Regions from separate parts of the Homo sapiens genome. Here region 2 is linked to region 1. The links come from fine-mapping of genetic effects on plasma protein levels. A gene starts in region 1. The other region holds a variant in brackets. All regions are shown on one strand. Distances are between the middles of the regions.

The links. A credible set is the group of variants that fine-mapping cannot tell apart. PIP is the posterior inclusion probability: the model's chance that the variant is causal. The UK Biobank Pharma Proteomics Project read protein levels with antibody pairs (Olink). The fine-mapping took linkage between variants from a reference panel, not from the people measured, so its PIPs are less certain.
Region 2: its variant is the best candidate, but not a certain one, in a credible set for the plasma level of the ADAMTSL5 protein (UK Biobank, PIP 0.53).

Annotation. Positions count from the first base shown.
Region 1 is chr19:1,504,828-1,520,400 of GRCh38, forward strand. It overlaps ADAMTSL5 (ADAMTS like 5), which reads right to left and starts at 8,192. Exons shown (of 12, transcript NM_213604.3): 1 at 8,136-8,192; 2 at 6,018-6,333; 3 at 5,812-5,903; 4 at 5,541-5,601; 5 at 5,323-5,431; 6 at 3,616-3,743; 7 at 3,171-3,282; 8 at 2,730-2,816; 9 at 2,415-2,578; 10 at 1,912-2,101; 11 at 1,763-1,834; 12 at 195-1,489. The coding sequence starts at 6,116. The coding sequence ends at 1,188. LOC107985337 (a long non-coding RNA gene) reads left to right here and starts at 12,575. Exons shown (of 3, transcript XR_001753835.2): 1 at 12,575-12,692; 2 at 13,465-13,609. LOC124904609 (a long non-coding RNA gene) reads left to right here and starts at 3,165. Exons shown (of 2, transcript XR_007067084.1): 1 at 3,165-3,289; 2 at 3,837-4,287. RefSeq lists an enhancer at 2,917-3,766 and silencers at 3,091-3,290, 8,017-8,386, 9,226-9,305.
Region 2 is chr19:1,529,234-1,544,806 of GRCh38, forward strand. It overlaps PLK5 (polo like kinase 5 (inactive)), which reads left to right. Exons shown (of 14, transcript NM_001243079.2): 10 at 173-257; 11 at 514-591; 12 at 2,505-2,650; 13 at 4,698-4,808; 14 at 5,832-6,813. The coding sequence ends at 6,017. Among named protein-coding and RNA genes, the nearest start is that of PLK5, 13 kb to the left of the region's middle. The variant G/A (reference allele first, on the strand shown) is at 6,117.

The DNA.
Region 1 (15,573 bases):
CATGGACACAGGGAGGGGAACATCACACACCGGGTCCTTTGTGGGGTGGGGGCCGAGGGGAGGGAGAGCATTAGCACAAATACCTAATGCATGTGGGGCTTAAAACCTAGATGATGGGTTGATGGGTGCCACAAACCACCATGGCACGTGTATACTAATGTAATAAACCTGCACATTCTGTACACACCCAGAACTTAAAGTAAAATTTTTTTTTAAAAAGTGCTTGTAAAAATTAAAGAGGAATAAAAGGGGGGTGAACAGCCAGTACGATAGTGCATGCCTGAAATTCCAGTGCTTTGGGAGGCCGAGGCAGGAGGATCGTTTGAGGCCAGTAGTTGGAGAGCAGTGTGGGCAACGTAGCAAGACCCCATCTCTACAAAAAATTTAAAAGTTAGCCGGGCATGGTGATTCACACCTGGAGTTCCAGCTGCTGTGGAGGCTGAGGTGGGAGGATCGCTTGAGCCCAGGAATTTGAGGCTGCAGTGAGCCATGATTGCACCACCGCACTTCAGCCTAGGTGACAGAGCAAGGGTCTACCTCAGAAAAAAAAAAAAAGGAGGAGCAAGCACGTGTTGATGGGTGGAAATCCAGCCAGAAATGCTGAGGCTGAAAAGATTGTCTCCGAGTTTCCTGGTAGCCAGGGGAAAAGGGGAAATTGGTACGTTGGTACGTTACAGTGCCTGGTTAGGCATGTCTTCTAAGGGGCATGCCTGTTTGTGACAGTGTCTCTGCCCTTCACACATGAGGGTGTGTGTGAGTAGCAGAGAGCAGAGACAGCACAGTGTCTGGGAAGTAAACAGATGATCTTCTGGGTACCCAGGGCAGCAGGGTGTCATGCTCGTTCATGACAGTGTCTCCAAGCAAGTGTGACGCGCGCAAAGAGAAAGAAAGCAGCGTTAAACTTTCTGAGTATAAATAGCTATGAGCTTCCTGGCAGCCAAGGAGAGAGGCGAAATAAAAGTCAGAGTCTCCTTAGTGCCTCCTCACCAGTGCCTGCCGGCTTGTGACAGTGGCTTTGACTGCATGCAGAGGTGTCTTAAGCGTGTGTGGGAGGGAGTCACATAGCTGCACAGGTGGGACGTATTTCAGAGCTGCCTGGAAGCCAGGGTGAGAGGGGAAATACGTTGACGTTGAGGCTGGTCAGATGTATCTTTCTTGCTGTGTGTGGCCGGGGCTCCTGCAGGGGCTCAGCCAGGACAGCGCCGGGCAGTCAGGCGTATGCGGCTGTCCTCCGCAGGGCTCCAGGGCCGGGCGTAGCCGGCGTGGGGCAGCAGCAGCTGGTCCTGTGTGCCGTCGGGGCTGACAAGACGCTGGACAGCCATCAGGTAGTCCCGGTGGGGTGCCAGCATCGGGCAGGGGCAGTGGCCTGGCGCCCACACGTACTCGCGTGCCCGCAGTGGCGAGCGGTTCTTGTAGACGAGCTGGATGCGCACCTCATAGCGGGTCTCCTGGGCCTGGTGGTGGTGGCCCAGCACTCGGGCCTGGAACACTGTTGAGGGGACGTGCTAAGCTGGCTGGCTGCTCAACTCTGCGCAAATCTCTACGCCCCCTCCCTTGCCAGAAGAGGGACTGAGGGTCAGGTGGGACCTCGGGATCTATAGGGACTAGAGTCAGGATCACGTCAGGGATCAATGAGGGATTAGGGTCAAGAGGCAAATTAGGATCAGAAGAAGGGGTCAAGGGTAAAGTCAGATTAGGGTCAGAGGTCAGGAGGAGGCCAGGTTAGTAGGGGCTAAGTCAGGGTAGAGGTCGGGGGTCTCACCAAAGTCACTGCCGCAATAGTGGAGTAGTCGGTGGGCGCGGCCGCGGGTGTCAGGGCAGGGTGGGCAGGGGTCTGTGGGATGGGCGGTGCTGTGAGGGGCACAGGCCTCAGTCCCCACTCATCCCCCACCCTGGCTGTCCCCACCTCACCTGGGGCCAGCGTTGGGGTCTGTGCAGGGGTGACAGCAGGGGCTGCGGGGGGCTGAGGCTCCACCCCCCGGGGCTGAGGCTGCCTCAGGGGCCAGCCCAGGGCCTGCACACGAGCCTGGAAGGGGCTGTAGCGCTCCCGAGGGAGCCAGAACTCAAACTCGATGCCAGGGTTGGGCTCCTGCAGGAGGACCTGGAGCAGGGGAGGGGACACAGGGAGCTTCACAGGAGGCTGGGGTTGCCTCCTGCCTCTGACCCTACGACCCCAGCCTCCCCACTTTGATCCTGTCTGCCCCCAGCCTCCCTCCTCTGATGCTCTGTCCCTAGCTGATCCCCTCTGACCCTGTCCCCACCCTCCCCCCTCTGATGCTCTGTCCCAGCCTCTCCCCTCTGACCCCAGACTCCCCCTTCTGGCCCCAGTCACCTCCACTCCTACCCTCTGTCCCCAGCCTCTCCCCTCTGTCCCCAGCCGACCCCCTCTGACCCTGTTGGAGGCCCAGTGGCACCTGTAGGAGCAGGTCATGGGAGGTGGGCCCGGCTGCTTGCAATGTCTCCTGGGGCCCTGTGTCTCGGGTGTAGACCACATGCGTGCCGGCCGCCTCGTAGGTCCCTGGTGGGCTGACCACCCAGTGCCCATTAAGCACGTAGCGCCCATCGCCCCCCATCAGTGCTGCAAGGGAACAGTCAGCCCTCAGGAACCTGTCGTCTCGTCTCCCAGACCCTGGGGTCCCCTCCTCAGGCCTCAGTCTCCCCATCTGTAAACAGGGACAACCGCCCCCGGGTGCCCAGCCGGGTGCCTCTCGCCTCACATCCTAGGATACCCAGGTGGTTGCGGCTCCTGTGTTCCACGCGGATGTGTCTGGCGCCCTCGGGGATCAGGGTCACGTTCCAGTACCCAGCGAAGGCACCTGGGTGGGAGGGTAGGAGGGTGTTGGGGTGCCAGTGGGGGTGTATTTGAGCGATGACTTGAGGATTTAATGAGCTACTGCGGGTAAGACAGCTAGCCAGGGTCCTGGGAACCGGAAAACCCTCCGTAAACGTTTGGAGTTACAATTACTATTGCTTCAGTGTGGCAGGGAAAGGGTTAAAACCCCATCTGTCCTGGGGAAGGGCGGGACAATCTGTCAGTAGCCAATCAGGATGAGGAGAAAGGGGGGCTGGGCCGCACACTGGCCAATCAGCACGGAAATTTGCTTCCGGGCCACGGCTCGTTAAAGGGCCCACTCTGACGTGTGTGCAGGGAGGGCGGGGCAGGTAGTCACCGGCGTCACGAAACACGCGCTGCACGAAAAGGCACGAGTCGTTGGCGCCTCCGCAGCGGCCACAGCGGTCCTCGAGGGCACCCGAGCCCAACAACCCATCACAGCCGGCGCTCTAAAGGGTGAAGGACAGGCGCGGCGTCACTGACGCTGGGAGGGGCAGGACCTGGGGAAAGGGCAGTGCCTGGGAGCAAGAGGACGAGGCCTGGAGGGAAGATGGGGGTGGAGCCTAGGGAGGAGCAGGACCTGGCGGGAGGAGGATGGGCTTGGCGCCCGGGAGTGGGTGCCTAAGGGGGGCTGGGGGCAGGGCCTGGAAGGGGAGGGGGAAGGCGGTGGAGCCTAGGGAGGGGGTGGAGGCTAATGGGAGGAGGGCGGAGGTGGAGCCTAGGATGGGTGGGGCCTGAGTGGGAGGTGGGCGGGGCTCGGGCGGGGCCTGACGAGTCCTTACAAGGCAGCGGCCAGCCACGCAGACCCCCTGGGCACCCGGGCTGCAGGCGGTGCCGTCCAGGACGCGGCCGAAGCTGTGGTAGAAGGCGTGCCCCTCAGCCAGGCAGTTGAGGTCGCACTGGTTGGGCGCTGAGGGCAGGAGGAGTCGGTGGGCCGGGGACCCCTGTTCGAGCTCCAGTCCCCCTCTACCAAGCTTCATCAGGCAACCATCACTTTGGGCAGATGAAGCCCAGAGATTTGGCCAAAGCCACACATCGAGGCTGAGGCAGAGCCAGGACTGGACCGTAGGTGCTCTGCGTCCAGCAACCTGGGACTCGCAGGCAAGTATCCTGGGGCTGCATTCATTCATTCATTCATTCATTCATTGTCTTTATATTAGGAGTCCTTACATATTATTCATTTTTAACACCATTACTCATTCTTCATTCCACTGAACACCTACTGTTTTCCAGACACTGTTCCAAGCTCTAGGATACAGAAGCAAGAATTCAATCAGTGTGCAGATGGATGGCCTTAAAAAAGGCCAGGTGTGGTGTCTCATGCCTGTAATCCCAGCACATTGGGAGGCTGAGGTGGGCAGATCTCCTGAGGCCAGGAGTTCAAGACCAGCCTGGGCAACATGGCGAGACCCCCCCGTCTCTACCAAAAATACAACAATAAAAATTTAGCCAGGCTTGGTGGTGGGAGCCTGTAATCCCAGCTACTCCGGAGGCTGAGGCAGGAGAATCGCTTGAACCAGGGAGGTGGAGGCTGTAGTGAGCCAAGATCATGCCACTGCACTCCAGCCTGGGTGACAGAGCGAGACTCCATCTCAAAAAAAAAAAAAAAAAAAAAAAAAGAAGATCTGAGCATCTGGCCCAGGCACCAGCAAGTACCCAATGAAGTGTTTGTCCAGTACTGACTGGACTGAGTCCCGCACAACTGAGCTGTGTCGCTGGTCCTCCCTGGGCCTCAGTTTCCCCTTCTGCCTGGAAGTGGGGCAAAATGAGCTGTCTGATCAAACACAAAGGCCGACAGCCCTGATCTCCACTCCTCCTTCTCCAGCTCCTTCTGGCTCCCATTTCCCTGAGCCTGGCTGGTGGACCCTGCCTGGAACGGATCCTGGGCTGGCCCTAGTGGGCCTCTGCGGGGGTGGGATCACAGCAGGTTTCCTCCAATTCTCAGATTGATGGAAGGAAGGAAGGGAGGGAGGGAGGGAGGGAGGGAGGAAGGAAGGGAAGGGAGAAAGGGAAGGAAGGGAAGGAAGAAAGGGAAGGAAGGAAGGAAATGAGGTTGATGGATGGCACTTTGTCCATTCTAGGCTTTTCTTATATCTGTGTCTGCCTTCCCCATGGCGTGTGAAGCTGCCTGTCTCCCTGAAATCTGGAGGCGCACTGACCCGGGCACGTAGTTATATAACTCGCTATTTTCAGCTCAATGCAGCAACATTTCCTGCTACTGGGATAAGTTTGAGAAGTGTTGGCCTCTGGATACAGCTCTAAGTCAATCCTTAGTTGGGTGTTCAGCCCTGTGCAGAATGAACCCTGCTTCCCTCTGCCCCTGTTTCACGCCTAACATATGCTGTTTCTGTTTCACTAACTCCTACATATCCTTCAAAGCCCTAGCACTAATACCCTCTTCTCTTTGCAACCCTCCAAGACCCTCTCCCTGAGACTAATGAGTTGTTCGCTCTGGACCAATTCTGACCACAGGAGACCAGACTACTCACCCCCATGGAAGGGCACCCACTGGTAGGTCTTCTGGGTGCCCAGGACAGGGCGGCCATTGTACAGGGCACACTGTAGGTCTCGGAAGGGCACAGCCCCTGGGGGGCAGTCCTAGGGACAGAGATAGGTGAGCCAGAGGCTGGGACAACCCCAAGGGGCAGGTGGTGGGCTTCAGGCAGTCTGGGGTGGGAGAGTGGTCTGGGAGGTGGGCAGGGCTTACTGGCAACTGGCAGAGGCGGTACTCATGGGAGTCTCCCCAGCACGGTTCTTCCCCAGGAAGCCTGAAGGGAGACAGAGTGTGGCGAGAACCCCCAGGGACCCCCTCCCAGGGCTGGCCTTCCACCCTCCGCCCCCGCCAACCCCACCCGCATTCCAGCGGGATCAGGGGGATTAAAGGGCACAGCATGTGTGGGCAGGCCGAGGGTGCGGCCAGGGGCCGGGCTGGGCCGGCGGGGGAGGAGGGGCAGGGACCCCCTCCGGGCCCCGCTCACCGGAGGCAGCGCCGGCTGCGCACAGAGACGCCACGCCCGCAGGAGCTGGAGCAGCGGGTCCAGGACACCCACGGGGTCCACTCGCCCGGACCCTACTTGGGGAGACAGAGGCACGGTCAGCCTTGTAGGGGGACGCTGGTGACCCCACACTGCTGACTGGGTCCCCATTCCCACTCGCCACCCCCTGGGCTCATGCCCCCCCTTACCTGAGCACTGACCCCCAAACCACAGTTCAGCAGGGCCCACAGGAAGAGCAGGAGGTTCTGGAAGAGGTGGGGCCTGGGGAACAGAGGGGCCGAGTCCATAGAGCCACCGCCAGAGACACAGGGTTGTGTCCCGGCTCTGCCCTGACTGGCTGTGTGATCTTGGAAAGTAACTAAACCTCTCTGAGCCCTACCTCTCGTCTCTGAAAAACGGGGTAATAGAGCCTCCCTTACAGGAAAGTTGAGGGGTCCTGTGGATCAGGTAAAGAAGACAGGAGACGTGGAGCCCGGTATGGAGAGGAAGAACTCAGAATGTCATCTGCAATTATTATTGTTGTTAGTTAGTTTGTTTTTGAGACGGAGTCTCGCTCTGTCGCCCAGGCTGGAGTGCAGGGGTGCGATCTCGGCTCACTGCAACCCTCCCCGGTTCAAGTAATTCTCCTGCCTCAGCATCCCGAGAAGCTAGGATTACAGGTGCCTGCCACCACGCCGGACTAATTTTTGCCGTTTTAGTGGAGACAGGGTTTCACCATCTTGGCCAGGTTGGTCTCAACCTTCTGACCTGAAGTGATCCACCTGCTTTGGCCTCCCAAAGTGCTAGGATTATAGGCATGAGCCACTGCACCCAGCCTACAATATTATTGATATGTGTATTGTGCTATAATGCAGACAGTAGGTGCTTAATCGATGCTTGATGATTGGAGGGATCATTCAAAAATAGTACACAGGTGCCTCCTAGGGCTGGGGCCCCCTCCCCGCCCTCCCCACCATCACTGCTTCTACCTTTCCGTGTGGCCTGAGGCCAGCCACTCCACTCTCCCAGGCCTCAGTTTCCCCATCTGTGCAGTGGGGGCCAAGTGGACTCAGTCCATGATTCTGTGACACCCTGCGGAAGGTGCGGCCGGCAGGGGCTGGATCAGGAGTTGGGTCCCTAGAAGAGGCCCTCAGCTGCACCCCGGCCCCAGGGCTCCCTCAGCTCCCAGACAGCAGGGAGTCCCCCGGATTGGGGATGGGACAGGGAGGGGGTGACCTGGCCCAGGTCCGTTCGGTGCCTCATGGCCTCATCGGCGGAGGGGGTGGGACTGAGCTCCGGGGCAGCCCGTGGAGGGAAGGGGCCACTGCTGAGGCTGGAGCAGGGAAGGGGAGGAGGCTGACTGCCTCTCTGGGCCTTAGTTTCTCCATCCTGTCAGGGCAGGGATGAAGTCACTTGCCATCCACACCCTCCTCATGACCCCAGCCTGCAGGGGGAAAGAGGGGGGAAGGGAAGCAGCCGCCAAGTGAGCCAGGGCGTCCTGCTGCCAGCAGAGCCTGAAGGCAGGTGGGTGAGCCCCGGCCCGGGCACCAGCTGGGGAAGAGGCTGGGTCCCACCTGGACCCTGTTTCCCTGGCTCCAGCATTTGGACTTCTGAGGCACCAAGGGTCTAGGGTCCTGGGTATCTCTAGGTACTGAGACAGCTGTGTGGTCTGCTGCATCCGTGCCCCTCTCTGAGCCTAGAGCCTGGGCTGGCCCAGGAAGCAGGAAGAAGTCTGCACCAGAAACTTAAAACAAGGGGAGGGGGGCCAGGTGCGGTGGCTCACGCCTGTAATCCCAGCACTTTGGGAGGCCAAGACAGGCGGATCACCTGAGGTCAGAAGTTTGGGACCAGCCTGACCAACATGGTAAAACCCCATCTGTACTAAAACACAAAAATTAGCCCGGTGTGGTGGTGCACACCTGTAATCCCAGCTACTTGGGAGGCTAAGGCAGGAGAATCGCTTGAACCCAGGAGGCGGAGGTTGCAGTGAGCCGAGATGGGGCCAATGCACTCCAGCCTGGGCGACATAGTGAGACTCAGTCTCAAAAACAACCAACCAACCAAAAAAAACAGGGGGAGGGGGCTTGACCTTCTGACCACCCCCACCGGACTCTAAGCCTGGTTTGAGGAGTGGGGGTCTAGGTGGTGAAAAGTGGGGGGCTACAAGGACCACCCTACCCCCTCCTCAATGGGCCCTGCCCAGAATCAAGGCTCTCCCCTCCCCGTGTGGGCTGCAGCCCGGACTGGCGGAGGGATCTCAAGGCAAGCCGCACCTCTGGGCCTCAGTTTCCCCCGGAGAAAGTGGGAGGATAGGCAGATGGACTTACCGGCTGCGCGGAGCCCAGGCAGCGCGTCCCGGCTCCCTGAGCGGCCCCAGGGCGAGCGGAAGCGGCGGGGCCCAAGGTGCTGGGCGGGGTGGGGAGCCTGGGACGGTCCCTCCCACCGCGGCCTCCGCAGGCGCGCCCAGGCCCGGGTCAGGAGGGGCGGCGGCCCCGGGCGCCCTCGCGCGGCGGGCGCGGATCTGCGGCAGGGGACTGCCCGGCGGACGCGAGCGCAGGGGTCCCGGAGCCGCAGGCTGGTGTCGGGCGCCCGGGTCCGGGTGACCTTGGCAGGCTCGGGCGGGGGCGCGGCGCGGGGACTGACCGCCCTCCTCTGCCCCGGGGCTGCTATTCCGGGCGCCGCGCTCAGGGCCCGGGAATGTGCGCGAACCGAGGTCACCCCGCCCTGGGTCTGGGAGTCCCGGGCGCTGCCCCTACCCCGCCGACGCCCGGATTGCGTCCCACCGGCGTCCCCATCCCCGGTCACAGCCCCCTCCCCTGGTCCTGCCCCTCACCCCTCTCGCGGGGGGTCGACCTGCTCGTGGATGGGGACCCTGGCGCGCCTGGGCTCCCATCCGGGGGTTCCCCGACCCAGGTCCCGGTCACCCCCAGCGCAGGGCCCCAGCGCACTGGGGAGAGGCTCGGCCCCGTGGGCCGCGCGCGGGGGGCGGAGAGACCCTCCCAGCTGGCGCATTCCCGGGCGCTGCTGTCACCAGGGGACGCGCCCCACCCCGCCTCCCGCCCTCCCTGCCGGGCCCCGGGGCTGCCAGCGGGGCTTCAGAGCCAGACCCGGGTCCAGGCGGTCCCTCTCCCTCACAGCCGCGGCCACACCCTCTCCGGCCTCAGTTTCCCCATCCCAGCAGTGGGCCCGGCAGGGATCTCCACCGCGAACCTTCCATCTGGAATCCGGCTCTGCGCGGACCGGCAACGCGAGGGGGCACCCCGGGACTCCCCCCACCCCACCCTTTCCCGCCGGGCGTCTGTGAGCCGCCCCGTGCCCACCCACGCAGGGATGAGACCAGGCCCTGGGTTCTGGGCTCCACCAGTTTCTGGTGTCGCCCCACGGCGCCCCCTGGCGGGCGGGCTGAGGGACTGGGGCACTAAAGGAGGGGGTGGAGGGACTGTCCTGCTCCCTGGGCTCCACCCAGGCTCGGTCTGAGCACCCCCTCCTCCAGGAAGCCCACCCTGCTGTCCCACAGCGCTGACCACAGGGAGAGAGGTTTGCTGGGGACATACAGGGTGTTGCTGGTCCAACTCAGTCTGCCCTCCAGCCTGTAGCATGTCAGCAGAGCCACCCATATGCCATTTATTGAGCACCTACTGTGTGCACAGCTGTGAACAACCCAGCCAGTCCCAGGCCAGCGGGTAAGGCAGCCCCCTGGAATGTATGACCCCCCACCTTCTGACCTGGACTATTGGAGAAAATAGCCCAGGCCCACCACTGATGGCCCCAGGTTGGGGGGTGGTGGTTGCGGGGATGTCAAGAAGGCCCTCACTGAAGGGGTCAAGAGAGAAGGGCAGGCCGGGCGCGGCGCCTCATGCCTGGAATCCCAGCACTGTGGGAGGCCGAGGCAGGCGGATCACCTGAGGTCAGGAGTTTGAAGCCAGCTTGGACAACATGGTGAAACCCAGTATCTACTAAAAATATAAAACTTAGCCAGGCATGGCGGTGAGTGCCTGTAATCCCAGCTACTCGGAAGACTGAGGCACGAGAATCGCTTAAACCCGGGAGGCAGAGGTGGCAGTGAGCCGAGATCACGCCACTGCACTCCAGCCTGGGAGACAGGCGAGACTCCGTCTCAAAAAAAAAAAAAAAAAAAAAAAAGGAAAGAAAGAAAGAAAGAAGTCAGCTCAGGACATGTGTCAATGTGTCATTAGGACAATTGTATCCTCCTCAGATGTGCCCCATTCCCAGATGTCCAGTCCACAGAGCTCCACTGGGAGTGCAGACAGCAGGCCCTGTGCCCCGCAGGGAAGGTATACAGAAAGCACAGCGCCCACAGGGAGCACACACAGCAGGCATTATGCTCTGCAGGAAGGGTATACAGCAGGTGCTGCATCTTGTAGAAATGCATAGAGTAGACTCTGCCCTGCAAAGGAGTGTATACAGTAGATATGGCACCTTCAGAGGAGTGCATACAGCAGTCACTGCATCCTGTAGAGAGTATATACAGCAGGTGCTGCATCCTGCAAGGAAGGTATACAGCAGGTGCTGCATCCTGCAAGGAAGGTATACATAAGGCGCTGTCTCCTGCAGGGAGCGCATACAGTAGGCACTGAGTTCTATGGAAAGTGTACCCCGCAGCCCCTGTTCCCTCCTGGGAGTGCATACCGCAGCCACTGCACCCTGCGTGGGGGCTCTAGAGCTGGCAAGATTGGCAGAGGTGGTGGTGAAGATGTGGAGGGCTGCCCCCCACCCCCAGTTCTTGTCCCCTACCGTCTCCCACCTCTGTCCTCTGGATGTCCCTAGGAGGAGGCTGGGAGCTCAGCCTAAGACACCCGGTGTAGGTGGAGGGGGTGGCTGCTGAGGCTCAGAGGCTCCTGGGGTCCCAGTTGGGCGGGGTCCCAGCTTACTACATTCCCCTGCCCTTGCCTGGACCCTGACCCAGGAATCAGCCGAGTCCCCCTACTCTGAATTTCAGCCTGGACCCCCTCCTTGAGGCAGCGTCAGGGCTAGAGGGGAGACTGAGACGCGGGTCCCGGCGGATGTGGATCAATTAGGTTCCATTTCCTTCATGGTTGTATGGCCTTGAGGCTTAAGGAATGCCGCGATCTGCTGTGTGACTGGGCTACAGTGAACAGTATGGTACCCCACACTTCAAACTGTGTTCACAGGGTAGATTTCATGGTAAGGGTTCTTACCATAAAAGAACAAAAACAGTGGGACACAAGGGACCTCGGGAAGTGACAGGTAGGCCTGTCATCTTGAGTGTGGTGACTGCATATGTGCAAACTCATCAAATTGCAGACACTGGGCTGGGCACGGTGGCTCACGCCTGTAATCCCAGCACTTTGGGGATCCAAGGCCAGTGGATCACCTGAGGTCAGGAGTTCGAGAGCAGCCTGACCAGCAAGGTGAAACCCCGTCTCTACTAAAAATGCAAAACCTAGGACACGGTGGTCCCAGGATACCTCAACCTCCTGCGTGGACTGGGTGGGGCCTCCCCATCCCTGCCCCACAGACCCCTGGACCCCCCGGTCCCTGGGGCTGTCCGTCTGTTCCTGGGCACCAGCAGGGGCCACGCAGAGTTGGGACCCTCCCCGGCTGGAGTCACCCCATGGGACTCAGGGCCCTGGACCCTCCTTGGCCGCTGCTCGCCCGGTCCTCATTCTGTGCCGGTTTCTTGTGCACGCTCGGAATCTGTTCCCTGCAGGCACCCAGTGCCCCGGGCACCGTCCAGAATTCCTGGAAGAGACCTCTTGCTTTCTTACCCCACTGCCCAGGCTCCAGGCCTGTGACATGGCCTCCCCAGGGTGCCCCTTCCCCTCCACCTTCACGTGCTGAAAACCACCTGTTCTGTCACTTTCAGGCGACGTGGATCAGGTGGACTGGCCCACCTCCTCCATTGTGTATGACGTAACCCATGCTTGGCCAAACAGATAATTCCATCTCCTAGAGACGGGGATTGGCTGGGGGATGACCATGTGACCCAAGTGGGCCAATGAGAGCCTGCCCTGGGACTTGAACTGGGCCATTAGAGGAAAAGGTGGTTTCCCGTGGCTGGGGTGGGCTCCAGGGATGGCGTGAGTTGAGGTAGGCTGGACTTTCTTGACTGCTCGAAGAGATGCACTGTCTCAAGCAGATGCTGACAGACGGCAGCAAATGGAAGGGGCCAGATTTCTTTTTTTTCTTTTTATCTTTCTGTCCTTTTCTTTCTTTTTTTACTTTTTTTTGAGACAGGGTCTTGCTCTGTCGCTCAGGCTGGGGTGCAGTGGTGCAATCACAGCTCACTGCAGCCTTGACCTCCTGGGCTCAAGCGATCCTCCCACCTCAGCCTCCCATGTAGCTGGGACTACAGATGCATGCCATCACATCTGGCTAATTTTTTTGATCTTTAGTAGTGACAGGATCTTGCTATGTTGTCCCGACCCAGGCTGGTCTCAAACTCCTGGGCTCAAGAGATGCTCCTACCTCAGCCTTCCAAGTAGCTGGGACTACAGACATGCATCACCATGCCTGGCTAATTTTTATATTTTTTGTAGAGTTGGGGGTCTCCCCCTGTTGCCCAGGCTGGTCTCGAACTCCTGAACTCAAGTGATTCTCTTGCCTCAGCCTCCCACACTGCTGAGATTGCAGGCATGTGCCACCCACCGTGCCCAGCCCAAAAGTCTAGATTTCTGAGAAGGTTGTTTGAGTTCCTGGATTGAGCCTCATCTGAAGGCATTCATCCATTTTTTTTCACTTTAGCAATTTTTAGTTTCTTACTTTTTTTTTTTTTTTTTGCCAGGGTCTCGCTCTGTCATCCAGGCTGTACTGCAGTGGTGCGATCTTGGCTAACTGCAACCTCTGCTTCCCAGGCTCAGGCAATCCTCTGGGATCAGCCTCCCAAGTAGCTCGGACTACAGGTGAGTGCCATTATACCCAGCTAATTTTTGTATTTTTAGTAGAGGTGGAGTTTTGCCACGTTGCCCAGGCTGGTCTCAAACTCCTGAGTTCAAGTGATCCTCCCACCTTGGCCTCCCAAAATGCTGGGATTACAGGTATGAGCCACTGTTCCCAACCTTATTTTAGAATTTTTAAAAAATTTTTATTATTATAGAGACAAGGTTTCAGGAACGAAACTCCGTCTCAAAAAAAAAAAAGGTGATAACAATTACTATTTCATGATTATTGACTAAATTCCAAATGTTATTTTATTTGGATTTGGATTTCACCAGGCTTGTTTTTTTGTTTTTTTTTTTTTTTTCAGATGGAGTCTTGCTCTGTCTCCCAGGCTAGAGTGCAGTGGCGTGATCTCGGCTCACTGCAAGCTCTGCCTCCTGGGTTCACGCCATTCTCCTGACTCAGCCTCCCAAGTAGCTGGGATTACAGGTGTGTGCCACCACGCCTGGCTAAATTTTTGTATTTTCAGTAGAGACAGGGTTTCACTGTGTTAGCCAGGATGGTCTCGATCTCCTGACATCATGATCCACCCACCTCGGCCTCCCAAAGTGCTGGGATTACAGGCGCGAGCCACTGCACCCAGCCTTTTTTTTTTTTTTTTAAACAAATGTCCTTTTTCTGTTCCTGGATTCCATAAGACATTGAACTATTTGTCTCATAATTAGTAAAAAGACCCATGCAGATTAAAAATGGATTATTTCTGTGGTAATCGGGTGGGTTCTGATGCCCATGCAGCACCTTGAACACGGCTGGAGTTGATGAGTATCCCTGATGGGAAGTCGATGCTGCGTCCATGGAGAGAAGGGGCACGGGGTTGAGTGTCCACCCAGCACCTAATGGAGATACAGACCCTCTCCCTGCCACTGGCGCTCCCTGTCAGGTGGGACAGACACCAGCAAGCTAGCAAGGAAACCATCATTCTGGGTTGTGGTGGAACTGGGGAGAAGCAGGCATGGATCACGTCTAGGGCATCTTGGGGCAGGGGCGGCCTCCTGGGCACAGGTGGCCCTTTCCTGCCTGGGCCTAAAAGCTAAGAAGAGGATGCCAGGCAAAGTCTGGGAGGGTGGCAGAGGGAACAGCACATGCAAAGGCCCTGTGGCAGGGTGAGCTTGGTGTGCGTCTGAGGACAAATGGGAAGGCCAGAAGGTTGATGTCTTGGCCTTGTGTCCTCATCTTGGGTGGTCAACTCTGGGGAATGTTGTATTCAGTTCCTCAGAGGGTGCCTGATGAGTGTGGGACTCAGGGTGCCCCGGGGGTACCCAGCTCCCACCCTGCTCCCTGAACCAACTCTCTGCACTAAAGCCTTGCTTCAGGCTCTGCCTTTGGGGGAACCCACACAGATGGGCCAGGAGGGTTGAGTAACCTGCCCCAGCTGCCAGTGCTAAAGCCACCCACCTGGACAATGTCAGTGGAGGAAGTGAAGAGAGTGGGTGAGAGGCCCCAACACTGAACCCCAGGCTCCCAGGAGAAGGAGGAGGTGGCTTAAAGGAGAACTGGAAAAATGCATCCAGAAAGATGGGAAGGGGCCAGGCGCGGTGGCTCACACCTGTAATCCCAGCACTTTGGGAGGCTGAGGTGGGTGGATTACCTGAGGTTGAGAGGTCGAGACCAGCCTGACCAACATGGAGAAATCCGGTCTCTACTAAAAACACAAAATTAGCTGGATGTGGTGGTGCATGACTGTAATCCCAGCTACTCAGAAGGCTGAGGCAGGAAAATCATTTGAACCCGGGAAGCACAGGTTGTGCTGAGCCGAGATTGCGCCATTGCACTCCAGCCTGGGCAACAAGAGCAAAACTCCATCTGAAAAAAAAAAAAAAAAAAGATGGGAAAACATCAGGAGCAGGGGTGTCCCAGAGGACAAGAGAGGACGGTGCTTTTATTATTATTATTTTTTTTTTTAATTTTTTTTTTGAGAGAGAGTCTCGCTCTGTCTCCCAGGCTGGAGTGCAGTGGCACAATCTCGGCTCACTGCAAGCTCCGCCTCCCGGGTTCACGCCATTCTCCTGCCTCAGCCTCCCGAGTAGCTGGGACTACAGCCGCCCGCCACCACACCCGGCTAATTTTTTGTGTTTTTAGTAGAGACGGGGTTTCACAGTGTTAGCCAGGATGGTCTCGATCTCCTTACCTCGTGCTCCACCCGCCGTGGCCTCCCAAAGTGCTGGGATTACAAACCTGAGCCACCACGCCCGGCCACTTTTATTATTAATTATTATTATTATTGTTTTTGAGACAGGGTCCTGCTCTGTCACCCAGGCTGGAGTGCAGTGGTGCCATCACAGCTCACTGCAGCCTCAACCTCCTGGGCTCAAGCAATCCTCCCACCTCAGCCTCCCAAGTAGCTGAGACCACAGGCGTGCACCACTCCACCCGGCTAACTGTTTATTTTTTGTAGAGAAGGGGATCTCGCTGTGTTGCCCAGGCTAGTCTCAAACTCCTGGACTCAAGGGATCCTCCTGCCTCAGCCTTTCGAGTAGAGTAGCTGGGATTACAGGCATGAGCCCTGCATCTGGACAACAGTGCTTTTAGGAGGAAACAGAGTTGAGAGAGGGAAGAACAGGGCTTGGTTTCGGGGCACCAAGTCTGGACGCCCCCTCCTGCGCTCACACTGGGCCATGTCGTGCAGCATAAACCACAATCAGTGGGGGTCTCTGGAGCCCTGTGGTGGTGGTACGTCTCCTGCCTGCTCTGCTCCCAGGGCCATGGGTCCCTGGGCACCTGCGTGGTCAGGCGTCCAGGCACGTGAGACCCACGGGTGCTTGGTAAAGGCCAGGAGACCAGGCAGGGACCAGGGAGCTGGGCTGAGTCACATTGGTTGGTGGCCTCCACCCTGGCGCCTGCCGG
Region 2 (15,573 bases), 24 kb after region 1:
GCACCTACTGTATGCCTCCGAGACACTCCGAGGCTGCCTCCCAAGGGGAAAGCAGTGCCTCTGTGTGCAGAGCACGGAGGGCACAGGCAGGGGCCAGAGCCTGCCACCCACCTCACGCCTGTCCCTGGGGCTGGGGCCGGGGCCACCCCCACCCCTGCTGCTCCCACCTCAGAGCTCCCTGTCTGCGAAAGAGGTTCCCTGCCTGGAAGGCCCCATCCACCTGGTCGCACAAGGGACCCTGCAGAGTGACCTGGCCGGTGAGCAGATCCCCGTCCCAGCCCGGGGCTGCAGGTGGGGAGGGAGGAATTACAAGTGACAGGGGGACCAAGGCCGTGGCTTACCAGGGTCACAGCCGCCGTCCCGGCCTCACCTTTCCCGCCTGTCAAATGGGAATGCCGCCTCTGGGTTGAGGATGAGATGTTCCTGGATGGAGCCGTGGGGAGGGGGACTGGTTGGAAGAGCCTGGTGGTGGGAACCCAGACCTGTCTGCGGCACAAAGACCTGTCTTCCCAGGGCCCGAGGGGAGCCGGCGGCCAGAGGTGGAGGCGGCCCTCAGACACCTGCAGCTGTGCCTGGATGTAGGCCCCCCGGGTAGGAGCCGGCCCAGCCCCCAGGATCACCTTTACTCTTACTAGCCAAGTAAAATTGCCTTCATTCCCATCCTGGGCCCTCCTGGGTATTTCTGGGGGTGAGGAGTAGGGGTGAGGGAGGCCCCAGGACACGGTGACATCAGGAGAGTGGGTTAGCCCTCCTGTGTGCAGAGCCTGGCACGGAGGGCTCTGCGGCAGCCTTACGTTTCACGGTCTCTTAAATTCATGACCCGGGCTCGTTAGAGACCCAGTGAGTGAGGAAACGTGACCTGGGACGTTGGACACAGAGCCCTGTGCCCACAGGCCACACTCCAAAGGGGGACCCCTCTTATCCCCAGTGTCCCAGAACCCAAACCCTCTTCCTCTCCCCTCCTCTCCCTGAGCCTCCACTGACCCACACATACTGCCACCCTTAGAGAGGGAGCCCCAAACCCCACGCCAGGTCTCCAGCCCAGAAGCCTTTTCTTTTCCTTTTCTTTCTTTTTTTTTAAGAGACGGAATCTCACTCTGTTGCCTAGGCTGGAGTGCAATGGTGCCATCTTGGCTCATCACAACCTCCACCTCCTGGGTTCAAAGCGATTCTCCTGCCTTAGCCTCCCGAGTAGCTGAGATTACAGGCGTGTGCCACCACACCTGCTAATTTCTGTATTCTTTTAGTAGAGACAGGGTTTCACCATGTTGGCCAGGCTGGTCTCGAACTCCTGACCTCCGGTGATCTGGCCGCCTCAGCCTCCCAAAGTGCTGGGATTACAGACGTCGTCAGCCACCACGCCTGGGCGCATTTTTTTTTTTTTTTTTTTTTTTTTTTTTTTTTGAGACGGAGTCTCACTCTGTCGCCCAGGCTGGAGTGCTGTGGCGTGATCTCGGCTCACTGCAAGCTCTGCCTCCCGGGTTCACGCCATTCTCCTGCCTCAGCCTCCCCAGCAGCTGGGACTACAGGCACCCGCCACCATGCCCGGCTAATTTTTGTATTTATAGTAGAGACGGGGTTTCACTGTGTTAGCCAGGATGGTCTCGATCTCCTGACCTCGTGATCCGCCTGTCTCGGCCTCCCAAAGTGCTAGGATTACAGGTATAAGCCACCGCGCCCAGCCTCAGGACCCCATCTCTACAAAAAAATGAGCCGGGCATGGTGGTGCATGCATGTTGTCCCAGATACTCAGGAGGCTGAGGAAGGAGGATCACTTGAGCTCGGAGGTGGAGGCTGCAGTGAGCTGAGATCGTGCCACTGCACTTCAGCCTGGGCAACAGAGCGAGACCCTGTCTGAAAAGCCAACAGACAAACAAGCAAAAACCCAGAAACGGGGCAGGGCGTGGTGGCTCATGCCTGTCATCCCAGCACTTTGGGAGGCTGAAGCAGGTGGATCACAAGGTCAGGAGATCGAAACCATCCTGGCCAACATGGTGAAACCCCATCTCTACTAATAACACAAAAATTAGCTGGGTGTGGTGGCACGTGCCTGTGATCCCAGCTACTCAGGAGGCTGAGGGAGGAGAATCGCTTGAACCCAGGAGGCGGAGGTTGCAGTGAGCCGAGATTGCGCCACTGCACTCCAGCCTGGGGACAGAGCAAGACTCTGTCTCAAAAAAACAAAACAAAACAAAACAAACAAAAACACACACACCCAGAAATGTGTAGTATTTTCAGAGCATTGCAAGTATTTGAGAATTGCTCATTCCCAGGGGTGCGCCAGTATCCCACAGTCTCCCTCTGCAAGCCAGAAATTAGTTACGGTTCCGTGGCTTCTGTTGATGTCTGGTCTCCTAGAATCCACCACCGAAGCCCCCAAGCCTCTGTCCGGTCCCCGCCGTGGGAAGGGTCTCACCCATGGTTTCAGTCCATCACATTTATTGAGTGCCTACTATATGCCTGACCCCTGACCCCTGGCTCAGCATACCTTTGTTTGTGCCCAGCCACACAGGACCCCCTGGGAGAGCAGCAGCCCATCCTCTGGGCCCCCAAATGGGTGGATTATTCCAGCAAATACGGCTTTGGCTACCAGCTCTTGGACGGGGGGCGCACGGGACGGCACCCACATGGCCCTGCGACCCCCCGGAGGGTAAGTTGTGGCCTCCTGTGCCCTGGGGGACCAGGCACTCCCCCTGCCTTTTTTCATTCATCTCTCAAGTATTTATTAAGCACCTACTGTGCACACCTACAGGTGCTCCCTGCCTGGTCGGGGAGAACAACACTAAACGAATCAGCAAGTGCGTTTCTGTAGTAAATGAACCCAGTGAAGAGGCAGATTAGGAGGGGAGGTGAATCTCAGTAGTGTGGGTAGGGGGAAGGGGAAGGGGTCTCTGAGAAAGTGACGTGAATGACAAGCGGCAGCCCTGTGCTTTGGGAGGCCAAGGCAGGATTCCTTGAGCCCAGGAGATCGAGATCAGCCTGGACAACATAGCAAGACCCCATCCCTACAAAAATTTTAATAATTAGCTTGGTGTGGTGGCACACACCTATAATCCTGGCACGTTGGAGGCTGAGGTGCGGACTCGCTTGAACCCAGCAGTTTGAGATCAGCCTTGGCCTCATAGCAAGACCCCATCTCCACAAAAAAATTAAAAATTAGCTGGGCGTGGTGGTGCACACCGGTAATCCTGGCACTGTGGGAGGCTGAGGTGGGAGAATCACTTGAGCCCAGCAGTTTGAGATCAGCCTGGGCCACACAGCAAGACCTTTCTCTACAAAATTTTCTTCTTTTTTTTTTTTTTTTTTTGAGATGGAGTCTCACTCTGTCACCCAGGCTGGAGTGCAGTGGCGCAATCTCGGCTCACTGCAAGCTCCACCTCCCGGGTTCACACCATTCTCCTGCCTCAGCCTCCTAAGTAGCTGGGATTACAGGTGCCCGCCACCACTCCTGGCTAATTTTGTATTTTTATTAGAGACGGGGTTTCTCCATGTTGGCCAGGCGGGTCTCGAACTCCTGACCTCAGGTGATCCACCCGCCTCAGCCTCCCAAAGTGCTGGGATTATAGGCATGAGCCACCGCGCTCAGCCACTCCTGGCTAATTTTTTGTATTTTTAGTAGAGACGGGGTTTCACTGTGTTAGCCAGGATGGTCTCGATCTCCTGACCTCGTGATCTGCCCGCCTCGGCCTCCCAAAGTGCTGGGATTACAGGCGTGAGCCACCGCGCCTGGCCAAGTTTTTTTTTTTTTAAATTAGCCAACTGCAAGGGTATGCATCAGTAGGTCCCAGCTACTTGGATGGCTGAGGTGGGAGGATCACTTGGTCCCAGGAGGTCAAGGCTCCAGTGAGCCATGATTGCACCACTGCGCTCCAGCCTGGGTGACAGAACGAGACTCTGTCTCTTTTTTTTGAGACGGAGTTGTGCTCTTGTTGCCCAGGCTGGAGTGCAATCTCGGCTCAGCGCAACCTCCCCATCCCGGGATCGGGGTAGCTGGGATTACAGGCACCCGCCACCACGCCTGGCTAATTTTGAATTTTAGTAGAGACGGGGTTTCTCCATGTTGGCCAGGCTGGTCTCGAACTCCCGACCTCAGGTGATCCTCCCACCTGGACCTCCCAAAGTGCTGGGATTATAGGTGTGAGCCACCGCGCCCGGCCTTAACACAATCTTTCTAGCGGGAGTGACATGGGGGCCAGTGGGGAGGTGGCTGGACTCATCAGGTGGGCAGTGGCGGAGGCCTGGGCTGTGCTGGTGACCGGGGAGGGATGAGAGGGGCTGCAGTGTGGATAGAGTTGGAAGGCAGGAAGGGTGGACCAGCTGTCAGCTGAGGTGAAGAGAGGACAGAGAGCCGCACTGGGCATATGGATAAGGTGTAACTAGGGCAGAGCTGCTCTTTAAAGCCACCATTCCAGGGGGTGTAGGTCAATGGAAGGGTGTCCACTGGCCTGGGCTGTCCAGGACAGAGGCCCTGTGTCCTGGCCCCAGCCAAGTGTGCTACATGCCCAACTGCGGGAGGCTGGAAGCCTTCGCCCTGAGGGATGTGCCCGGCCTGCTGGGCGCCAAGCTGGCCGTGCTGCAGCTCTTTGCCGGCTGCCTGCGGCGGCGGCTGCGGGAGGTGAGAGCTGGGGTGCTGGGTGTGGGGGCGAGGGGTGGGGACGCCCCCTGCGTCACGTGACCTCAGCCGAGTCTGTCCACAGGAGGGGACCCTCCCCACACCTGTGCCACCTGCTGGACCCGGCCTCTGCCTCCTGCGCTTCCTGGCCTCTGAGCACGCCCTGCTGCTGCTGTTCAGCAATGGGATGGTGCAGGTGAGCCCGGGGCTCAAACTCGGGGCACTGGGGCTCGGCAGGGTGGGGTCTGGCCTGCCTGGGCTGTTACGGAGCAAGCTTTGGGGGAGCCTTAGGAAGCATTTGCCTCCCAGGAAAAAAAAAAAAAAAAAAGGTATTGGCTCCTGCGTACAAAACCACAGCATGGAAAATGCATGACGTTTTTGGGCCAGGCACTGTGGTCCACACCTCTAATCCCAGTGCTTTGGGAGGCCGAGGCGGGCAGATCGCAAGGTGAAGAGTTTGAGACCAACCTGACCAACACGGTGAAACCCCATCTCTACTAAAAATACAAAAATTAGCTGGGCGTGGTGGAGCCTTCCTGTAATCCCAGCTACTCAGGAGGCTGAGGCAGGAGAATCGCTTGAACCTGGCAGGCGGAGGTTGCAGTGAGCCGAGATCACGCCACAGCACTCCAGCCTGGGCGACAGAGCAAGACTTCGTCTCAAAAAAAAAAAAAAAAAGGCCGGGCACGGTGGCTCACGCCTGTAATCCCAGCACTTTGGGAGGCCGAGGTGGGCAGATCACGAGGTCAGGAGATAGAGACCATCCTGCCTAACACGGTGAAACCCCGTCTCTACTAAAAATACAAAAAAAAAAAAAAAAAATTAGCCGGGCGTGGTGGCGGGCGCCTGTAGTCCCAGCTACTGGGGAGGCTGAGGCAGGAGAATGGCGTGAACCCGGGAGGCGGAGCTTGCAGTGAGCCGAGATCGCGCCACTGCACTCCAGCCTGGGTGACAGAGCAGGACTCTGTTTAAAAAAAAAAAAAAGTCAGGGTCTTGCTGGAAGACTGTGGGCAGGGGAGCCCCCATCTGAGCCTCAGTTTCCCCAGGTGTACAGTGGAGCACTTGGCCTCCCGACCCCGAGTTCCTGTGGCTGGGGCAGGCACTAGGGGCCAGACTGGGGGCTCTGGGTCCAGTGTCCACTTGTCCTTCTGGAGCGCCACGGCTGGAGGCAGGTGCAGGGGTACCCGTCTCCCCTTGACTGGTATCTTACCCTTTGCAGGTGAGCTTCAGTGGAGTCCCGGCCCAACTGGTGCTGAGTGGCGAGGGTGAGGGTTTGCAGCTCACCCTCTGGGAGCAGGGGTCCCCTGGCACCTCCTACTCCCTGGACGTCCCGCGGAGCCACGGCTGCGCCCCCACCACCGGACAGCACCTTCACCACGCCCTCCGCATGCTGCAGAGTATCTAGTGCCCCTGAGGGTCAGAGTGGACCCCTGCATGGTAGTGCCAGGGACCCAGGCTCCATTTCCATTCCTGTGGCTCCCCCAGAGGGGCTGTCCTGGGGGAG[G/A]GCTGGGGGGCACACGGGAGGTGGGTTCTTGCCTTGTGGCATGACTGTTCAACCCAGACTTTGCTGGGATCTCTTCCTTTTTCATTAAAGACAATTTGAAATGCTGTAGGCCATGGTCTGCCTCTCTTTGGGGGAAAGCGTTTGAGGAGCTTTGGCAAAGAAACGTTGACCCCACGTGACGTTGCATCCTCCCTGTTTCTCTTAGTGGCAGAGGTGGGTTACATTTTCACTAATGCAGACATTAGCACCAGAGGCCAGTGTAGTGGCTCATGCCTGGAATCCCAGCACTTTGGGAGGCCAAGGCAGGAGGATCGCTTGGGCCCAGGAGTTTGAGACCAGCCTGGGCAACATGGCAAGACCCCATCTCTACAAAAAATTAGCTGGGCATGGTGGCACGTGCCTGTAGTCCCAGCTACTTGGGAGGCTGAGATGGGAGGATGGCGTGAGCATGGGAGGTTGAGGCTGCAGTGAGCTGTGATTGCACCACTGCACTCCAGCCTGGGCGACAGAACAAAGACCCTGTCTCAACAACAACAAAAGTAGTACCAGAAGTGGGGTTCTGCCATAACTCCAAATCTAAAACATGGGACAGTTGCTTAATGGGTGGACAGGAAAGAAGCCGACACTGAGGCTGGAAAGATGGCTGGCTATGCTCCGGGACACAGTTGGCACAACCGTCACCTGTGCTGCCCTGGGGTGGACGGTGCACTCATGGACCTGACCTCTCTGGGCTGATGGAGCATTGGTTGTTAGATCAAAATGTCATAAAAGGCCAGGCGTGGTGGCTCACACCTGTAATCCCAGCACTTCGGGAGGCCAAGGCAGGCAGATCACTTGAGCTCAGGAGTTCGAGACCAGCCTGGCCAATATGGTGAAACTCCGTCTCTACTAAAAATACAAAAATTAGCTGGGTGTGGTGGTAGGGGGCCTGTAGTCCCAGTTACTCAGGAGGCTGAGGCAGGAGAATCACTTGAACCCAGGAGGCAGAGGTTGCAGTGAGCCGAGATTGCACCATTGCACTCCAGCCTGGGCAACAGAGCGAAAATCCCTCTCAAAAAAAAAAAAAAAAAAAAAAACTGGACGCAACCTAAGTGTCCAGCGGTGCGAGACTCAAACATCTGGCCATCCCCTGGGATGAGTGAGGCTGGGAAAGTGGGAAGGCTCACGGGAGGCATTAAGGCAGGCCGAGGGGTGCAGAGCTGATGACGGAAAAACCCGTCAATCGCAGAAGGACTCCAGGCCCCTCAGTAGCTCTTTTGTTTTTTTTGAGACAGAGTCTTGCTCTGTCGCCCAGGCTGGAGTGCAGTGGTGCGATCTCAGCTCACTGCAACCTCCGCCTCACGGGTTCAATAGATTCCTCTGCCTCAGCCTCCTGAGTAGCTGGGATTACAGGCATGTGCCACCACGTCCGGCTAATTTTTGTATTTTTAATAGAGACAGGGTTTCATTTGTTTGTTTGTTTGAGACGGAGTCTCACTCTGTCGCCCAGGCTGGAGTGCAGTGGCACGATCTCGACTCACTGCAACCTCCGCCTCCCGGGTTCACGCCATTCTCCCGCCTCAGCCTCCCGAGTAGCTGGGACTACAGGCGCCCGCCACCAAGCCCGGCTAATTTTTTTTTTTATTTTTTAGTAGAGACGGGGTTTCACCATGTTAGCCAGGATGGTCTCGATCTCCTGACCTCGTGATCCGCCTGCCTCGGCCTCCCAAAGTGCTGGGATTACAGGCGTGAGCCACCGTGCCCAGCCTAGAGACAGGGTTTCACCATGTTGGTCAGGCTGCTCTTGAACTCCTGACCTCAGGTGATCCTCCCACCTCAGCTTCCCAAAGGGCTGGGATTACAGGCATGAGCCACTGTGCCTGGCCCCCTCATTAGCACTTGAGGCCACAATTCTCAGTGCGAGGCTCCTGGGCTGTGCTTTGGGCGTCTGCTAAGGTGCTCAGAGGTGTATCCTATGCTGGAGAAAACTCCACCTCGACCGATGCGGGATCAGGAGACCGGGGCTCCAGTCCCAGCTGGCCACTTCCAGGCACATCCAGGCCTCAGTTTCCCTGCCTGTTTAAGGGGGGCATGTATTCTCTGGAATCCCTGCCAGCAGCATGATTCTGCATGAAGTTCTACTTCCAAGTTCCGGTTATCAACCCCAGAAACTCATCATAAAAGAGGGAGAAGTGGCTCATGCCTGTAATTCCAGCAGGCTGGGAAATTGAGGCAGGCGGATCACTTGAGGACAGGAGTCTGAGACCTGCTTGGGCAACATAGGAAGACTCTGTCTCTACTAAAAATTTAAAAGCCAGGCCTGGTGGCACATGCCCGTGGTCCCAGCTACTCAGGAGGCCCAGGTGGGAGGATTGCTTGAGCCCAGGAGTTCGGAGGTACAGTGAGCTATGATTGCACCACGGTACTCCACCACTACTCTGGGTGATAGAGCAAGACCCTTTCTCAAAAAATAAAAATAAAAAATTGGCTGGGTGCCGTGGCTCACGCCTGTAATGCCACCAATAGACAGATCACCTGAGGTCAGGAGTTCGAGACCAGCCTGGCCAACATGGTGAAACCCTGTCTCTACTAAAAATACAAAAATTAGCTGGGCGTGGTGGTGAGTGGCTGTAATCCCAGCTACTTGGGAGGCTGAGGCAAGAGAATCGCTTGAACCCAGGAGAGAGAGTTTGCAGAAGGCGCCACTGCACTCCAGCCTGGGCGACAAGAGTGAGACTTCGTCTAAAAAAGAAGAAAAAAGAGAGACATTCCTGGAGGTGCGCACAAAAGGGCATCATTGACATCTGGAGTGCAGTGGCATGATCTCGGCTCACTGCAAGCTCCGCCTCCTGGGTTCACGCCATTCTTCTGCCTCAGCCTCCCGAATAGCTGGGACTACAGGCGCACGCCACCGTGCCCGGCTAATTTTTTGTATTCTTAATAGAGACGGGGTTTCACCGTGTTAGCCAGGATGGTCTGGATCTCCTGACCTGATCCGTCCGCCTTGGCCTCCCAAAGTGCTGGGATTACAGGCGTGAGCCACCACGCCTGGCCACCTTAGCCTCTAGAATAGTAGTAGTTCTCGGCCGGGCGCTGTGGCTCATGCCTGTAATGCCAGCACTTTGGGAGGCCAGCGTGGGCGGATCACGAGGTCAGGCGTTCAAGACCATCCTGGCCAACATGGTGAAACCCCGGCTCTACTAAAAATACAAAAATTAGCCAGGCGTGGTGGTGTATGCCTGTAATCCCAGCTACTCGGGAGGCTGAGGCAGGAGAATCACTTGAACCGGGGAGTCAGAGGTTGCAGTGAGCCAAGATTACACCACTGCACTCTAGCCTGGCGACAGAGAGACACTCCGTCTCAAACAAAAAAAAAAAAAAAAAGAAAGAATAGTAGTTGTTCTCAATGGTGGGGGGGGGGGTGATTCTGTCCCCAGGGGACACTGGGCTATGTCTCGGGACATCTGTGGTCATAATGACAGGGAGTGCTCCTGGCATGGAGTGGGTGAAGGGCAGGGACGCCGCTCAGCACCCTGCAATGCCCAGGACAGCCCCACCCCAGAGAATGGCTTGGCCCCAACATCCATAGTGCCCAAGAGGAGAGACCCTAGCTTGGACATAGGAACTGAAATATTTACAGGCTTAGTGTTTAATTCCTAAAGCGGATTTCCTCTGTAATCAGGGAAAAAAAAAAAAAAAAAAAAAGGAATGAAGTGGAGAAACGGCACTCCCGGGAGACGTTGCACATTCCCAAGCCCACGCTGCACCTCACACGCAGCGGGGAGCAATGTCCCCGTAGTGGCCCCTCGTCAAGGTCAGTGATGCACGGGGCGAGAGAGGGGTTGAGGTGGGGATGGCCTCCTGCCAAGCACAACGTGTCCTGGGGCCACCCATCTGCAGGCAGAGCGCTCCACCACTCAAATGGGGGCGTGATGAGTCCGAGGCCACCCAGGTCTGAAGCTTCCCAGGGGCCCTCCTCACAGCCCTTTCCCTTTGGAACCATAGTCTATCAATTCTGAAAGTAAAATGCAGACTTTTCTTTTTTTTCTTTTCTTTTTTTTTTTTTTGAGACAGGGTCTCACTCTGTAGCCCAGGCTGGAGTGCAGCGATGCCATCTTGACTCACTGCCCCCTGTGCCTCCCGGGTTCAAGCGATTCTCCTGACTCAGCCTCCCAAGTAGCTGGGATTACAGGCATGCGCCACCACACCCGGCTAACTTTTGTATTTTTAGTAGAGATGAGGTTTCACCATATTGGTCAGGCTGGTCTCGAACTCCTGACCTGTGAGCCTCCCGCCTTGGCCTCCCAAAGTGCTGGGATTACAGGCGTGAGCCACTGCACCTGGCCTCCTTTCTTTTTCTTTCTTTCTTTCTTTCTTTCTTTTTTTTTTTTTTTTTTTTTGAGACAGAGTCTCACTCTGTCGCCCAGGCTGGAGTGCAGTGGTGTGATCTCAATTCACTGAAAGCTCTGCCTCCGGGGTTCAAGCAACTCTCCTGCCTCAGCCTCCTGAATAGCTGGGACTACAGGCATGTGCCACCATGCCCAGATAATTTTTGCATTTTCAGTAGAGACGGGATTTCACCATGTTGGCCAGGCTGGCCTTGAACTCCTGACCTCGGGCAATCTGCCCACCTCAGGCTCCCAAAGTGCTGGGATAACAGGCATGAGCCACCGCGCCTGGCCCATTTCTTTTATTTTTATTTATTTATTTTTTTTTTTGAGATGGAGTCTCACTCTCTCGCCCAGGCCGGAGTGCAGTGGCCGGATCTCAGCTCACTGCAGCCTCCGCCTCCTGGGTTCAAGCAATTCTCCTGCCTCGGCCTCCTGAGTAGCTGGGACTACAGGCGTGTGCCACCACACTTGGCTAATTTTTGTATTTTTAGTAGAGACGGGGTTTTACCATGTTGCCCAGGCTGGTCTTGAACTCCTGACCTGAGGCAATCCACCCGCCTAGGCCTCCCAAAATGCTGGGATTACAGGCGGGAGCCACTGCGCTTGGTCTGGATGCCGTTTCTTTGTCACAAAATTGCAACCTTAACAAATCAAACTCAAGTCCCAGGGTCCACCACCACCTGTCCCTGGGCCCCCTCTGTTTCTGGGAAGTGACAGGGTCTCCTCTTTTTTTCCCATCTGTTTCCTATGCTTACTTTCCTGGAGAGAATAACTGACCCATGGCGGCATCCCCGCGTCGCCTCTCGGCCGTGTGCCTGTGTGTGTTGCTGCGTCTGTGGAGATAGAGCCAACTCTGTGCTTTTTATGGAACGGGGGATGAAGCAAAGCCAGCGTTTGTGGATGGGAGAGAAAATACGACCAAAACAGACACTGGGGCCCATGTTGGGAGTAGAGAGGGCTGCAGGCACGCTGGGCTGGGGTGGGGGGAGGAAGCAGGGGGACGGGTCAGGGGAGGTCGTGTGCCTTGGTGTGGCCAGACCTAGGAGGAGGGATCAGTGGGGAGAATTTGGAGATGCCCCCAGGGACCCCAAAGGAATGGAGTGTGGGTGAGAGAGGAACAAAAGCAAGCAGAGAAAACACAGAGCAAGTGCATCACTGCCTTTAAAAACAAAATGAGCCGGCCGGGCGTGGTGGCTCACGCCTGCATTCCCAGCACTTTGGGAGGCTGAAATGGGCTGCTCACCTGAAGTCAGGAGTTTGAGACCAGCCTGGCCAACATGGTGAAACCCCGTCTCTACTAAAAATACAAAAATTAGCCACCTGTGGTGATACACACATGTAGTCCCAGCTACTCGGGAGGCTGAGGCAGGAGAATGGCGTGAACCCGGGAGGTGGAGCTTGCAGTGATTGAGTGATTGGAGATCACGCCATTGCACTCCAGCCTGGGCGACAGAGCGAGTCTCCATCTCAAAAAAAAAAAAAAAAAAAGTTTGTTGTTATTGCAAGACACCAAGTTGTTGTTGTTGTTCTTCTTCTTCTTCTCCTTCTTCTCTTTCTTCTTCTTCTTTTTTTTTTTTTTGAGACAGTTTCTCTCTGTCGCCCAGGCTGGAGTACAGTGGTGCAATCTCAGCTGACTGCAACCTCTGCCTCCCGGGTGCAAGCGATTCTCCTGCCTCCCGAGTAGCTGGGATTACAGGCATGCACCACCATGCCTGGCTAATTTTTGTATTTTTAGTAGAGACGGGGTTTCACCATGTTGGCCAGGCTGGTCTCGAACTCCTCACCTCAGGTGATCTGCCCGACTCTGCCCCTCAAAGCGCTGGGATTACAGGTGTGAGCCACCGCGCTCGGCCTCTTCTCTTTTTTTATAGAGAGAAGGAGTGTCGCTCCGTCACCTAGGCTGGACTCAAACTCCTGGTCTCAAGCAACTCCCCCGTCTCAGCCTCCCAAAGCACTGGGATTACTGTGAGCCACCGTACCTGGCCCAGACACCAAATGTGAAGGTAACTTGTGACCCGGCAATAGCTAACTAATACACAACCCAAAACATGCAAGAAACAGCTTCATTTCTGCCCGGAACATTTGTTTCCAGGGAGAAAAAGACAAAACATCTTCAGAGTGTTTAACTGGGTGTCTTGCAAAATGACCTACCTAGAGTATTTATTTCCATCTGCTTGTGGGCGTCAAGAACAGCAACAATCTGTGCCGTCTCCCACGCCCCGAGCCCACAATGGTGGTTTATTAAAAATAAACCAACCACAGAATATATTAATTTTCTAACCTCCCGGGCCAATTCTTATTTCTAGGTATAAGAACTTCCAGAGATGGCAAAGCACCCACACCGCCCTCGTGCTAAAGTTTCTGGAATCTTCCTTAGACGGGTGAACTGTGTGCTGCCAGAAATAAAATTAATAGCCTCACTTTTTTGGGTGCTTACAAGGGTTGGAACTTCAAGAAATGGTCATGAATTCACTCCAGCCCTGGCTCAAAGATTTTTTTTTCTTTCTTCCCTTCTTCTTCCTTCTTCTCCCTACTCCCTTCTCTTCCTCTTTCTCCTCCTCCTTCCTTCTCCTTCTTTTTCTTTTTGGAAACCACTGATTTAACCCTGAGAGAGGGAAAACTTGTCCTGGCAAGAATTTCCAAAGCTCAGTTTTATTTTTTAAGACAAAGTCTCGCTCTTGTCACTCAGGCTGGAGTGCAGTGGCGTGCTCTCGGCTCACTGCAGCTTCCGACTCCCTGGTTCAGGAGATTTTTCTCGTGCCTCAGGATCCCAAGTAGCTGGTACTACAGGCGTCATCATGCCCGGATAAATTTTCTACTTTTAGTAGAGACGGGGTTTCACCATGTTGGCCAGGCTGGTCTCGAACTCCCGACCTCAGGGGATCCACCCGCCTCGGCCTCCCAAAGTGCTGGTATTACAGGCGTGAGCCCCAGCGCCCGGCCCCAAAGTTCCGTTTTACCCTTTTTCCCACGCTGAGGCTACAGCTGAACCCAGCCTCCAGACCACCTCCTCATTGGTCTATGGGAGCACGTGACATCATGCGTCCTCCAATCACCAGCAAGCAAGCAAGGCGTGGGCGGGACCAAGGGCGGCTACCTCTGGGGCCAGCAGGATTGGCTGTTGCCCGTGGTAACTGTGTGTGACGTCATAAAGCTTCCTTGCACCTTGGCAAGGCCCCGGGAGCAGGGACCTTTTCTCTCCCACTATACAGATGGGGACACTGAGGCGCTGGTTCTCAATCTATGAAAAAATGGGGTGCTGGTAGGTAGGTCAACCTGGGTCCCACGGGGAGTTTTCAAACTCCTGATGACTCCAGAGAATTACGCTGAGTGAAAAAAGCCTGTCCCGGCCGGGCGCGGTGGCCCACGCCTGTAATCCCCGCACTTAAGGAGGTCGAGGCAGCCGGGTCACAAGGTCAAGAGATCGAGACCAGCCTGGCCAACATGGTGAAACCCCATCTCTACTAAAAATACAAAAATTAGCCGGGCGTGGTGGCGGGCGCCTGTAGTCCCAGCTACTCGGGGAGCTGAGGGAGGAGAATCACTTTCACCACGGAGGCGGAGGTTGCAGTGAGCCTAGATCACGCCACTGCACTCCAGCCTGGGTGACAGAGTGAGACTCCGTCTCGGGAAAAAAAAAAAAAAAAAAAAATTAGCCGGGCATAGTGGGGTGTGCCTGTGGTCCCAGCTACTCAGTTGGCTGAGGTGGGAGGATCACCTGAGCCCAGGAGTTCCAGACCACCCTGGGGAACATAGTGAGACCCCATCTCTATAAAAAATTAGAAAATTAAGGCCAGGCGCGGTGGCTCACGCCTATAATCCCAGCACTTTGGGAGGCCGAGGCGGGCGGATCAGGAGGTCAGGAGATCGAGACCATCCTGGCTAACACGGTGAAACCCTGTCTCTACTAAAAATACAAAAAATTAGCCGGGCGTGGTGGCGGGTGCCTGTCGTCCCAGCTACTCGGGAGGCTGAGGCAGGAGAATGGCGTGAACCCGGGGAGACGGAGCTTGCAGTGAGCCGAGATGGCGCCACCGCACCCCAGCCTGGGCGACAGAGCAAGACTACGTCTCAAAATAAATAAATAAATAAATAAATAAATAAGCCAAGGATGATGATGCACACCTGTAGTCCTAGCTGCTTGGGCGACTGAGGCAGGAGGATGCCTTGAACCCAGGAGTTCATGTAGGTTGCAGTGAGCTGTAGTTGCACCACTGGAGTCCAGCCTGGGCAACAGAGCAAGACCCTGTGTAAAGAACAAAAAAAGTTTATGTAACATTTTAGAAATGGAATTAGGGTTAGGGATGAGGGTGCGGGGAGGGTGCACAAACAGCAAGAGATCCTGATGGTGATGGAAATGCTCCATGTCATGATGGTGGATACACGAATCTACCCAGGCCAGCAAATTATAGGAGACTAAAGACATCTCACACACTCACACACACGATCACAAGTTAAACTGAGGAATCCTGAGTAAGATTGATGGATTGTATCCATGTGAAATCTTACTTATATGTTTTTTAGAGATGGAGTGTCCTTAATGCACCCCAGGCTGGAGTGCAATTTTGTGATCTCAGCTCACTGCAGCCTCTGGGGTTCAAGCGATTCTCCTGCCTCAGCCTCCGGAGTAGCTGGGATTACAGGCGCCCACCACCACGCCCGACTAATTTTTGTATTTTTAGTAGAGATGGGGTTCCACTATGTTGGCCAGGCTGCTGTCGAACTCCTGACCTCGTGATTCACCTGCCTTGGACTCTCAAAGTGCTGTGATTACAGGCGTGAGCCACCACACCCGTTTTTGTTTTGTTTTGTTTTGTTTTGTTTTTGTTTTGAGATGGAGTCTCACTCTGTTGCCCAGGCGAGAGTGCAGTGGTGTGTTCTAGGCTCAGTGCAACCACCGCCTCCCAGGTTCAAACGAGTCTCCTGCCTCAGCCTCCCGAGTAGCTGGGACTACAGGTGCCCGCCACCACGCCCGGCTAATTTTTTGTTGTTGTTGTATTTTTGGTAAAGAGGAGGTTCCCCATGTTGGCCAGCCTGGTCTCGCACTCCTGACCTCAGGTGATCCACCTGCCTTGGCCTCCCAAAAT